2 separate regions of the Homo sapiens genome follow, and region 2 is linked to region 1. The links come from fine-mapping of genetic effects on gene expression. Tissue or cell type: monocytes after LPS. Region 1 holds a variant in brackets; the other region holds the start of a gene. All regions are shown on one strand. Distances are from middle to middle.

Region 1 (5,152 bases):
AAACCAAACGGCTCCAGCACTGTGAATCTGAGCAGAAAAAAGCATACTCATCAAAAGTATGGCCTCCACCTTGCTTCTACCTTCCAAGCTCCATTTGTATCTGATTGAAGGAAACCAAACTGCACCTGGCTGCAAGGGGTAAACTTATCTGCAAGAAATTCAGAAAATGTACATTTTAGCTTTAAAGCTTCTGTAGTATAAGAAGATAGAGTAGAGCAGTGGATTTCAAACTATGGGTTGCAACCTATTAGCGAGTCATGATATCCATTTATTGAGTTATAAATGGCATTTTGAAAAGTGAAATAGAACATAAGTTATCAGTATGCCTAGCAAGATTAAGTATTATTGCATAAAATATATACATTTTTATGATTCATAGATATTTTATATATACATATATATTTGTAGGTGGGGAAGTATGACACGATGAATATGTAAAATGCATTTCTTACTGTGGGTTATGATAAAAAAAAAAAGGCTGAAGGCCAAGGTACCAGGAAGGTGAAGAGATGCTGTGTGCCAGTTTACCATATCTACTATAGTATCTCTTATTTTATTAAGGAAGCATCCTTTTATTCCTACTCTGCTAATAGCTTTTATTTTGAATGGATGTTGAATTTCATCAAATAATGTTTATTTTTCTATTGAGGTAATCATAAGCTCTTTCTCCTTTGATGTACTACATTGATGGATTTTCCACAATGCATTGTCTTTGCATATTCCTCATTCTAAAAGTATTTTGATAGTTAACTTTTGTGTCCATCAGTCTACAACTTTCCTACAACCCCTGTCCCACATATTACTTAACTTTACTAGCAGGTTCTGCATTTGCCCAACTTGTCAAAGCTACTACTGTAGATTTTGAGACATTCTGGGAGAACAAAAAAAAGGTCTATGTTTTATGATTCTTTATTACATTCACAAGAAGCCAAAATATCTGCATTTTATTTAGCTTAAAAATGTAATCATTTATAGATATTTTTCCAATTTAAGAACCAATGATAAAGCATTTGTATGGAGAAGTCCTAATGTGAAGCTGGTTTTTAATTCTGATACAGTAGTGACAATTATTTCAATATGTATTTGTTATGAATATAAATCACCTACTAAAAGTATCTTCATCAATTTGCCCACCATAAAAATATCTGTCTGATTTATGGTTACCTAAACAGTGTCTCAGAAACTCATTTTCTTCATTTATTTGCCTCATTTTGTTTATTTGCTCATTTTTAAATACTAAAGAATATCTGCATTGCTTGAAAGTAGCCAAATAACAAGTATTGGTTTTACTGGGCTGTGGTTGTAACTCACAAAATCAGAAAATTTCAACATGGTTTCTTTCAAAATATTTGTGAGGTGTAAATATTTTGGACAAGCTGCTAATGTGAACTTTCACCCTGGAAACTCTGGGGTTTCTTATATATCTTACATTTATTTTTCTTGCTTTATTTTAGGAAAAAAAATTTTTAATTTTGAATAGAATTAAAAAAACAGGATACTTTTTACAAACCATCCGCACAACCAAAATACATTACCTGTCAATGAAAAGTTTTCCAATAATTTAATCAATGCAAATATACACATATACACATTCTCTACATCAATAGTATTCAACAGTTTTTATCAAAAGGAGAAAATTTTGATTTTATAAAGGCAGTGGAAATAAAAAACAGTAATTATTAAGTTTTGCTCAAGGACCATCTAGAAGGAAAATTTAGTGACACATCTGAAATAAGCAACTGATGGCCAGCCTAGCCTTATTAAGTAACACATATTCAAATTGTAGATCTCCCCCTCCTATCTTCCACCCCATAGCTAAGAAAGGAAACCCAGGGATAGAACTAATTGAACTCTATTAGCCAGAGGCAATCGAACCCAGTGCCAATAGAGAGATGGACTCCCAATTAGTCTTCAAATGGAACAAAGTCATAACACTGGTTTTCTTTCGATGTTGGACGTATGGGTGATACGTTTCTAAATTTATAGTTTCCAAATTTTCTGTAATGAGATATATTACTCTTATAATACAAAGAAAGCTCCAACTAATCAAAAATTATATATATGTTAGTTCACTGTTTTAAATGCCCAACCACCATTTAAGAATAACTTTTAAGTGTCTTTGTAAGTTCTTCCTCTCTTCCTATTCTGATGTTGAGAAGGGGTCTATTTTCCAGAGAAAGTTAAGCAGGACTTGACAATTTGGGAGTTTGGGTCAGATTTGCTTGGAGTTTGTAAAAATTATACTGGGAGGAGTTCCACAATCTCCCTGATGGCTAGAAACAGTAATATTTACTAGGTTCTTACTGTGTCTACGCCAATGTTCTGGGCACAGCAGGGAAAAATAAACAGTAGTAGAGATGGCCTCTGTTTATGAAGAGCCCAACTAATAATCAAGGGCATAAAAGACATAAAAATAACAATTACAAAGGTACATACTGATACAGTGGAAACCAGAAGTCAGTGTGCAAGAAAACATGACAGTATTTGGAGCCAATTGGGGTGATGCTTCCAGCACTTCCAGAAGCAGCCACAGTGACGTCTTCTATTTACCTCTAATTCAATTTCTTTTTCTCCAAGAGGTTAGTAGAAATGGAAATTCTGAAAACACAGAAATTTTCCTCACTGGGAAAGTGACCTAAATCAATGCTGCCTAAGCTTGTTGACTCCAGGTTTATATTCCTATTTGAGATAGTATTCAAGTTTCATGAGAAAACATGTTTTCAAGACATGATTTTAGGAAATCAAATACAAGATTCACTTGAAAGTTGGTAGCACTTAATGAAAAACCAAGGTTTCCCATGAAATTACTGAACCTTCCATTTTGATTAAACAGATTGGGGCTGATCTAGGACAAGAAGTTCTTAAATATTGTCCAAATCCCTCATGGCACAATGCTGAAAGCAAAACAAACAAAAATTTATCAAAGATAATTTCATTTTCTCTCTTATTAAAAACTGCACCTTTTTTTT[C/TC]CTCCAGGTGCTCAACATGTCACTGTTTAACTGCCCTCTACTTAAAGCTTTCTCATTTACTATGCATGATTTTGAAGTACTAGAATCTCAGATGGAAATTTTTCTGGATGTGCATATTAGTGGGAAAGGAAGAAATCATACAATATAGTATCCAAGGGAGCTGACAGGCAGCCAGAGCTACACCCCTGACTCTGAGTAAACCGCTTTGGTATATCTGGCTTTTCCTAATGAATCATCTGTGGGACTCAAGGCACCAGCAGCCCAAGTCAATCAGCAGGCTGGGAACCAAGCTGAGGACTCATATTTCATCAGCTAAGAAAAAGCTGGAGGGTCTCGGGACACACAGATGACCTCTGGGTGCTTTTCCCTGGACACAAAATGAAAATGCTGATGTTAACCTGTACCAGAAGATTCCTGAGGAGCAACTGATAGGGGCAAATGTCCAACATGGTATAAGGATTAAATCTTAATAATAGCTTATCTTACCCCACCAAAATGGTGAGAAATTTTACATATCTGCCTTTATTTAGATCATGATGAAGGAAAAGCGACATGATGAAATCTCTAGAAACAAATGAGCCTACCACTTTGGAATGTGGGTTTGGGCTGTTCTGCCAGATGTTATGATTCTGAGTAGAACTTAAATTCTAAACAAATTAACAACTATTCTCTCAATGCAGTGATGTTGTCTTTCATGAAATCTCTTCTCCAACTTCTGTGCCTAAAAACATCAGTCCATGCCAGGTACCATCTATGTACATTCAAGCCAAGCCTCTATTTTTACAACTCTCTTAGGAGTCATGGAAGAACCTGCCTTAGCCAGAGGCATAAAAGACGATCCTTTGCTTCTTAGGGGGAATCTGGGGCTCTTCACTTGATCATCTGAGTCTCTTCATCTGCATCATAAAATTCTTCCTCTTCCTCACTCTCACTCCCTAAAGAGCTCTCCTTGTCCACACACTGAAACAGGAAAGAAGAAAAGGGCAGTGAAATGATGTTATGACATTTCTGAAATGGAAACTACCATCTAGCTATTCAACTGACAAATGTATTTATATGACATTCATTCCCCCAAGAAATAGCCCCTAAAATATTCTAGGAAAGCTAATGAATCATCGATCATCCTTATTTCTCTGAAAATCAGCTGCTGTTAGATCCCACTTTTGTTTTCCAGCAGTTTTACTCAGTTCTATTTAATTTAACGCAAACCTTCTTTTTTTCATTAACTGCCACTATCCAAGCGGTATAATAATTAAGAAAAATATCACACCTGTTGGGGGTCCAAAGCCTGTAAAGATAATGCTTCTTCTCCCAGCCTGCGATACGAATACACCTGAAGGTCGGAGAATGTTTCTAGCAGCGGACTGTTAAGGGTCTCCGGCAATAACAAACTCAGGAGGCCGGAGGTCAGACCCGTGGCTCCGAAGACAATGAATGGTAAAGACCATTGCACATATTTCTGCAGAGGCGGGGAGTGGAATGAAAATAAACCAGAGAATTAGTTTCCTTAGCATGTAATACAAGCAGTCTCATGACTGAAAAACTGTCATGTTTACCACCTAGTTCATGACCTCGCACTAGACAACACTATAAGCCACTTCTTTCCACATAAAGAATTATCCTGGGAAATCAGAGAATGATTCCTCAGGCATGTAGAGATGGGAGTGAGTAAATAAAAGGACAGCACTAGTCTGTACATTAGAAGCAGCAATTTCATGTCCGGGGTGGGTACTGTAGGAGAAGAGGCCAGGCTGCCTCTGAGCAGGCAGGCCTATATGGCCAGAGCTGACAGGACATCTTGTAGTTCAGCTTCCATTCCAGGTGAGCACACTTTGCACAGAGGCATCCCAAAATACTTGCTGATGATGAACTTTAAAGTTCTTAATCCTGGAATTGGCCAAACCATCCTATATACCTTAAGACCGTAACTGAGAGTTCCAGGGATTAAAGGTGTAAAAACTCTTTTAAAAAACCAACCCTACGACATACATATGGCTTATAAACTTCTAAACTGAACATGGTTAAGGGCTGGTGATACAAGCAATTGTTTCAGAGATCCAAAACATATTCTCAGGAAAACGGAAACATTTCATCACAAAGAGATTCAAAGAAAACATGAAAAACAGTTGCTTCCAGGGTGTTTCTCTGGGGCTTTTCTGAGCTGATCAACATTTTAGAATTCC
Region 2 (5,152 bases), 92 kb after region 1:
GAATGATGAAATCACCTGTGATACAACTGAGCAATGGGACTCCACAGTACTCCCACTCCACAGACCAGCTGCCGTAATACAAAACATCTCCAACAACAGACTTGGTAGAGAGGTCTTTGGGGATATCCACTCTCATACCCAGGGTAGCTCTGGGTGGCTCTACAACCCCCTGGATCATGTATCTCAATGGGGTAACTGAGTCCTTAAAAACACGTAGCATGTGAAGGATTCACTTTTGCCTAGGCTGGCATCTCCTCCACTGGTATAAGCACAGCTACAGGGCATCTTCCCACCCACATCTATAAGATAAACAATCAGTCACTCATCCCCAACACTCTAAGACCTGGTCCTTGTACCGCAAATACTGACCATAAATCATCCAAGGTTTAGTGAACGGTCATAGGCATGGGCTTGGAACTTTTTGATAGCAAACTCTAACTAACTGGGTCAACCATAAATAAAAGTAAGTTAGAGAAACTTAACAGGTCCTAAACCGAGAACACTGGCCTTTTTAGAACCTCACTCTACTGAAGACAAACTTACTCCAAGTTAGTGGATACTTGGCTAGGCAAATAAGAAAATGATAACAGGAAGTGAAGGGTAGGGATAGAGGGATGGGGAGCTGGGATTGTTCAAGAAAGGATGTATGTTCCTGGAATTCATGGCTGGAACAGAAAAAAAGGGTTTTCTCAAAGAAACTGTTATAAATAAAGATCAGGCATCATGGTTGCAATTCTTCTTTCTCGGTATTAAATACTCTTATCATTTAGCTTGAACGTTTTTTCTCCCTGGGGAAAGCTTGTTTAAAGCTAAAACAACGAGCTTAAAAGAACTTCAGAATACCACATATTCGTGAGCTGAGAACTGTTCGGCTAGAAAAAGAACTGACTCCATCATTTGAACCGTTTCTGGCTGATGATGAAATCAACTGAACTTCCAAACATTTTAATCAATAAGTCAACCCCTACCTTCCCCCATCTTCCTGTTGAGCCACTGTCTTATGCAAGCTTTAAGCAACTTGTGGACTGGTGGCTATATCCATGACCACTCTGTACTTCCTGCAGAATAACTATCATCACATGCTAACTAAATTACTTAACTGTCTGCCTGCCCCACCCGCAGCCACTGGAATGCAAGCTCCTGAGGGCAGTCAATGATTTGTCCACCATGGCATCCCTATGTTCAGCACATCCTAGCCCGTATTAAACCTGATGACTGAAGGAAAGAGTAAAATGGCTGGCTCACAGCAAATACTAAGAAAGGATTTGTGAATGAAATGCCTCTGGCATATTGAGAGAAGCGACTAATGTCAAATGAGCCATTTAAGTTGGTGAAGGACTAATCCTTGCCTGGCGCAGTTAATCTGTAGTGACCTTTCGCATATGGAATCGATATTTTGAGGCTGGGGTGTACAAGTAGGTTCTGAGAATTCTTTATAATGAAGAAGTGATTCCATTTGATAACCACACATGGTAGATGGCACTATTCGGCTCACGGGAGTCTCAGCCCAAGGCTGGCGCAGGGCCGAATGAGCCAGCAGAACTTAAACCAGAGGGAAATAAATCCTATGCTTTGAAAGCCCCTAGAAGAGTAAGCCCCCTCAAGCCCAGGAAAAGAGGCAGAGGACACCCGGCGCAGAGGGAGGCGATCCTAGACACAACCTTTTGTCTGCAGATTATCAAGACTGTGTCCTAGATTCCAAGGTGACAGTGCCACAGGTAGGGTAACAATTCCCTTCATATTTGCAGCGTGTTATAGGCAACAGCGTAGGGCAGGTAACACAATTTTGCATCCCTCCTTAACCAGCATAGCGGCTGAGAAACCTCCCCCAACACGCTCCTTCCACCACTCAAGGTGGCGGGGTGGAGGGCCCAGCAGAACCCAAGAGGCTCTGAGGCCGGCCGGCGACCTTGACGCTGCCGGCCGGGCCCAGGCCACCGCGCGGCGCCTCGCCCCTGCCCCACCCCGACGCTCGCCACACCTCGGTGTTTGCAGAGCCTCGGCCTCGGCCCCGGCCCCGGCGGTCTGGGAGCGGACGCCTAGCCCTGCGCCGGGCGGCCCTGAAGAGGGAAATGCGGCTGCGGGGCCGCGGGGACTTACCTGCAGCAGCACGGCCAGCAGGAAGCACAAGTACATCTGGTAGATGCCCATCTCCCCCACCGCCTGGAACGCCTCCTCCACCTCCATGGCGGGCCGCGCGCAGGAACCCCGCCACCCCACCGCCCTCTCAGGCGCTGCCCTCCCGCCCAGCGCGGCAACCCCTGGGCGCCCGGCACCGGCTTGGACCCGCCGGGGCGGGGATGGAAGCGCTGGCGGCGGGGCCGGGGCGGGCCGGGCCGGGGCGGGGCGCCTGCGCGGGCGGCGGGGCTGTCAGGCTCGAGAGGTGGACGCCGGGCGGGGAGCGGGGAGCGCAGCCGGGCTACGCGGGGCGAGGGGCGAGGAGGGCGTTCGAGATCCGGGGCTGGATGCCCTGGACCCGGGCCTCTGGACTTCCTGTTTAAAAAAAAAATGGTGTTTTGGTGTACGTTTTGTTTTGAGAGGGACCGCTGTCTGCGCCTTAAAGTGAGGAAAGAGGAAGTGGGCCGGGCTGAGGGCCTGAGAAGAAACATCGGGACCGCGTCCGCGTGTGACCCAGGGCTCTGCCTACAGGGGACCCGCAGCTGGCGGGCGGCCTGGCGGCTCTCAGCAATGCCTGTCGTTTTGCCCAAACCAGTTTAATGCGGGGGCTTGGGGAGCCCTAGAGCCTTCAGAGAAAAGTGCTGTCTGTGCAGCATTTCTTTCCAGTCCTATTCTGTGCTAGCCATGGGTTAAGTACACTGGTAGGCAAGCAAATTCTTGTAAAACCGTCGGATACATTTGCTTATAGAAGTATGCACGAGGTACAAAGGAAGTGCAAAAGACGAAGGGGCAGGATGTGATGGCTGCCAAGGTATTTAAAGGATAAACGGCAGTTTGTCAGGTGGAAATTAAAAAAAAAAAGCGTGGCAGGGCCAAGGGACGCTGGACACCTGCGTTAGTCCCCTCATGCCTCCACCTCCTAACCTCATTTGCCTTTTTGTTTATTATGTGTTGTCTTTTTAACAGCTGCATAGTATTCCATTGTCTAGACCATGACTTCTAGTTTAACATTGAATAGAAATGGCGACCAGCTAGTGTCCTTGACCTGCCAGTATCCTTCTTATGCTTCCAAAATTTTCCGTTAATTGTGATGTCTGTTGCAGCGTATTGGTAGCTAGGCTTTACTGGTCAGCTGCTTTCTTTTTTTAGCAATTAAATGAATGCTCACTGTAATTGAATTTATCAGTGGGTTGGAAACTGTAAACTCTATAAACTCTTAAGATTTTTTTCTCTCTCTTACTTAAGGAAACGTTTTCTGTATAAGTACTATTAATAGTTTAAAAAGTTTCCTTCTTTGGCTGTTTCCTACGAATCCTCATTATTAATAAATGCTGAAGTTTAATAAGTGCTTTTTGCATTTATTGACATGATCCTATTGTTTTTCTTCTTGAATCTGATAATCGGGTACATTATGGTAATAGTTTTTTTGATATTGAACTTTACTGGAATAAATCCTATTAATACTTGCTCACGATATTGCTATTTATTGCCAAATTTAATTTGCTAGTGTTTTGTCTAGGGACTTTACATCTGTGACTAGCGAACTAGGCCTATAATTTTCTTTTCTTCCTGATGCTTATGTCTAGATTTGGCAGTAAGATTTTATAGTGCTTTCATAACATGAGTGTGAGTGTTTGGTAAAACTCTCCTGCAACCATCTAGACTTAGCTTGTTTTGCAGGGGGAGCCTCTTTATTACAGATTTATAGATAATGGGTAAAGATAAATAGGTGTGTATAACTAGATATATTCGTATGTCTTTGCATTTCTTCTTGAACCACTTTTTTTCTAGAAATGTTTCTATTTTATCTAGTTTAGAAATTGTTTTTGGAATAAACTAGTTCATATTGTTTTCTTGGGATTTTTAAAAATAAGGGTCTAACTGTTTATGTCCCATTTTTCATTCTGAATAGTGTTCATCTTTATTGTTCCAATCTTATCAGTCTTGCCAGAGGTTTGTCTACTTTATTATTTTTTAAAAAGTTTTGTGAATTTTTTTATTTCATTGATTATATGAATTCTTTCCTTTTTTTTTTTTTACTTTTGTTACTTTGTAATTCTTTTACTAGCCACATGACTTGAAGTTTAGCTTCTTTGCTTTTAATATTTCTTTTTGAAGAATAATTATGTGTGGCTGGGCTCAGTGGCTCACGCCTGTAATCCCAGCACTTTGGGAGGCCAAAGCTGGTGGATCACCTGAGGTTAGGAGTTCAAGTCCAGCCTGGCAAACATGGTGAAACTCCGTCTCTACTAAAAATACAAAAATTAGCCGGACGTGGTGGCACAGGCCTATAGTCCCAGCTACTCAGGAGGCTGAGGCAGGAGAATCACTTGAACCTGGGAGAAGGAGGTTGCAGTGAGCTGAGATTGTGCCATTACACTCCAACCTGGGCAACAGAGCAAGACTCTGTCTCAGAAATAAATAAATAAATAAAATAATTATATTTAAGGTTGTACTTACCTTTCTATAGGACTTTGCTCCATCCGACAAGTTTTGTCATGTGGTACTTTTGTTGTCTTTACTTTTAAATATTTCATGACATTGTCATTTCTTCTTTAACCAATGAGCTATTTTTAGTGCATTTTTTGTTTCCAATTAAAGGTTGCTATTTTTTTTACCATCTTTTTAGTGTTGTTTATAATTTATATGCTTTGTAGACAGAGATTATATTAAATCTTGGAAATTGTTTTAATTTTTTGTGACCTAATATGTGATTTTTCTCTTTTTATTCTTTTTTTTTTTTTTTTGACAGTATCTTTCTCTGTCACCCAGGCTGCAGTGCAGTGGCTTGATCACATCTCACTGCAGCCTTAATCTCCCCAGCTCAGGTGATCCTTCCACCTCAGCCTCCCAGGTAGGTAGAACTATAGGCAGACACCACCATGGCTCATTTTTATTTTTTGTAGAAATGGGGTTTTGCCATGTTGCACAAGTTGATCTCAAACTCCTGACCTCAAGTGATCCACCCGCCTCAGCCTCTCAGAGTGCTGGGATTACAGGTGTAAGTCACCATGCCCAGCCCGTAGCCTTTTTT

Direction of the effects. Positions count from the first base shown, and alleles are read on the strand shown. Sizes are in standard deviations (SD) of each study's normalised expression.
In carriers of allele TC in region 1, the expression in monocytes after LPS of the gene that starts at base 2,302 in region 2 tends to be lower than with C alone (small effect, 0.34 SD a copy in Fairfax 2014).

The links. PIP is the estimated chance that this variant, and not a neighbour inherited with it, causes the effect.
Region 2: SLC22A15 starts here. The variant in region 1 is fine-mapped to the expression of SLC22A15 in monocytes after LPS (Fairfax 2014, PIP 0.90).

The regions. Positions count from the first base shown.
Region 1 is chr1:116,065,796-116,070,947 of GRCh38, reverse strand. SLC22A15 (solute carrier family 22 member 15) reads right to left here. Exons shown (of 12, transcript NM_018420.3): 11 at 4,240-4,428; 12 at 894-3,929. The coding sequence ends at 3,840. Among named protein-coding and RNA genes, the nearest start is that of MAB21L3, 43 kb to the left of the region's middle. RefSeq lists an enhancer at 3,049-4,248. The variant C/TC (reference allele first, on the strand shown) is at 2,970.
Region 2 is chr1:115,973,663-115,978,814 of GRCh38, reverse strand. SLC22A15 (solute carrier family 22 member 15) reads right to left here and starts at 2,302. Exons shown (of 12, transcript NM_018420.3): 1 at 2,101-2,302. The coding sequence starts at 2,187. LOC101928977 (a long non-coding RNA gene) reads left to right here and starts at 1,539. Exons shown (of 5, transcript NR_125970.1): 1 at 1,539-1,718. RefSeq lists silencers at 1,916-2,165, 2,226-2,455.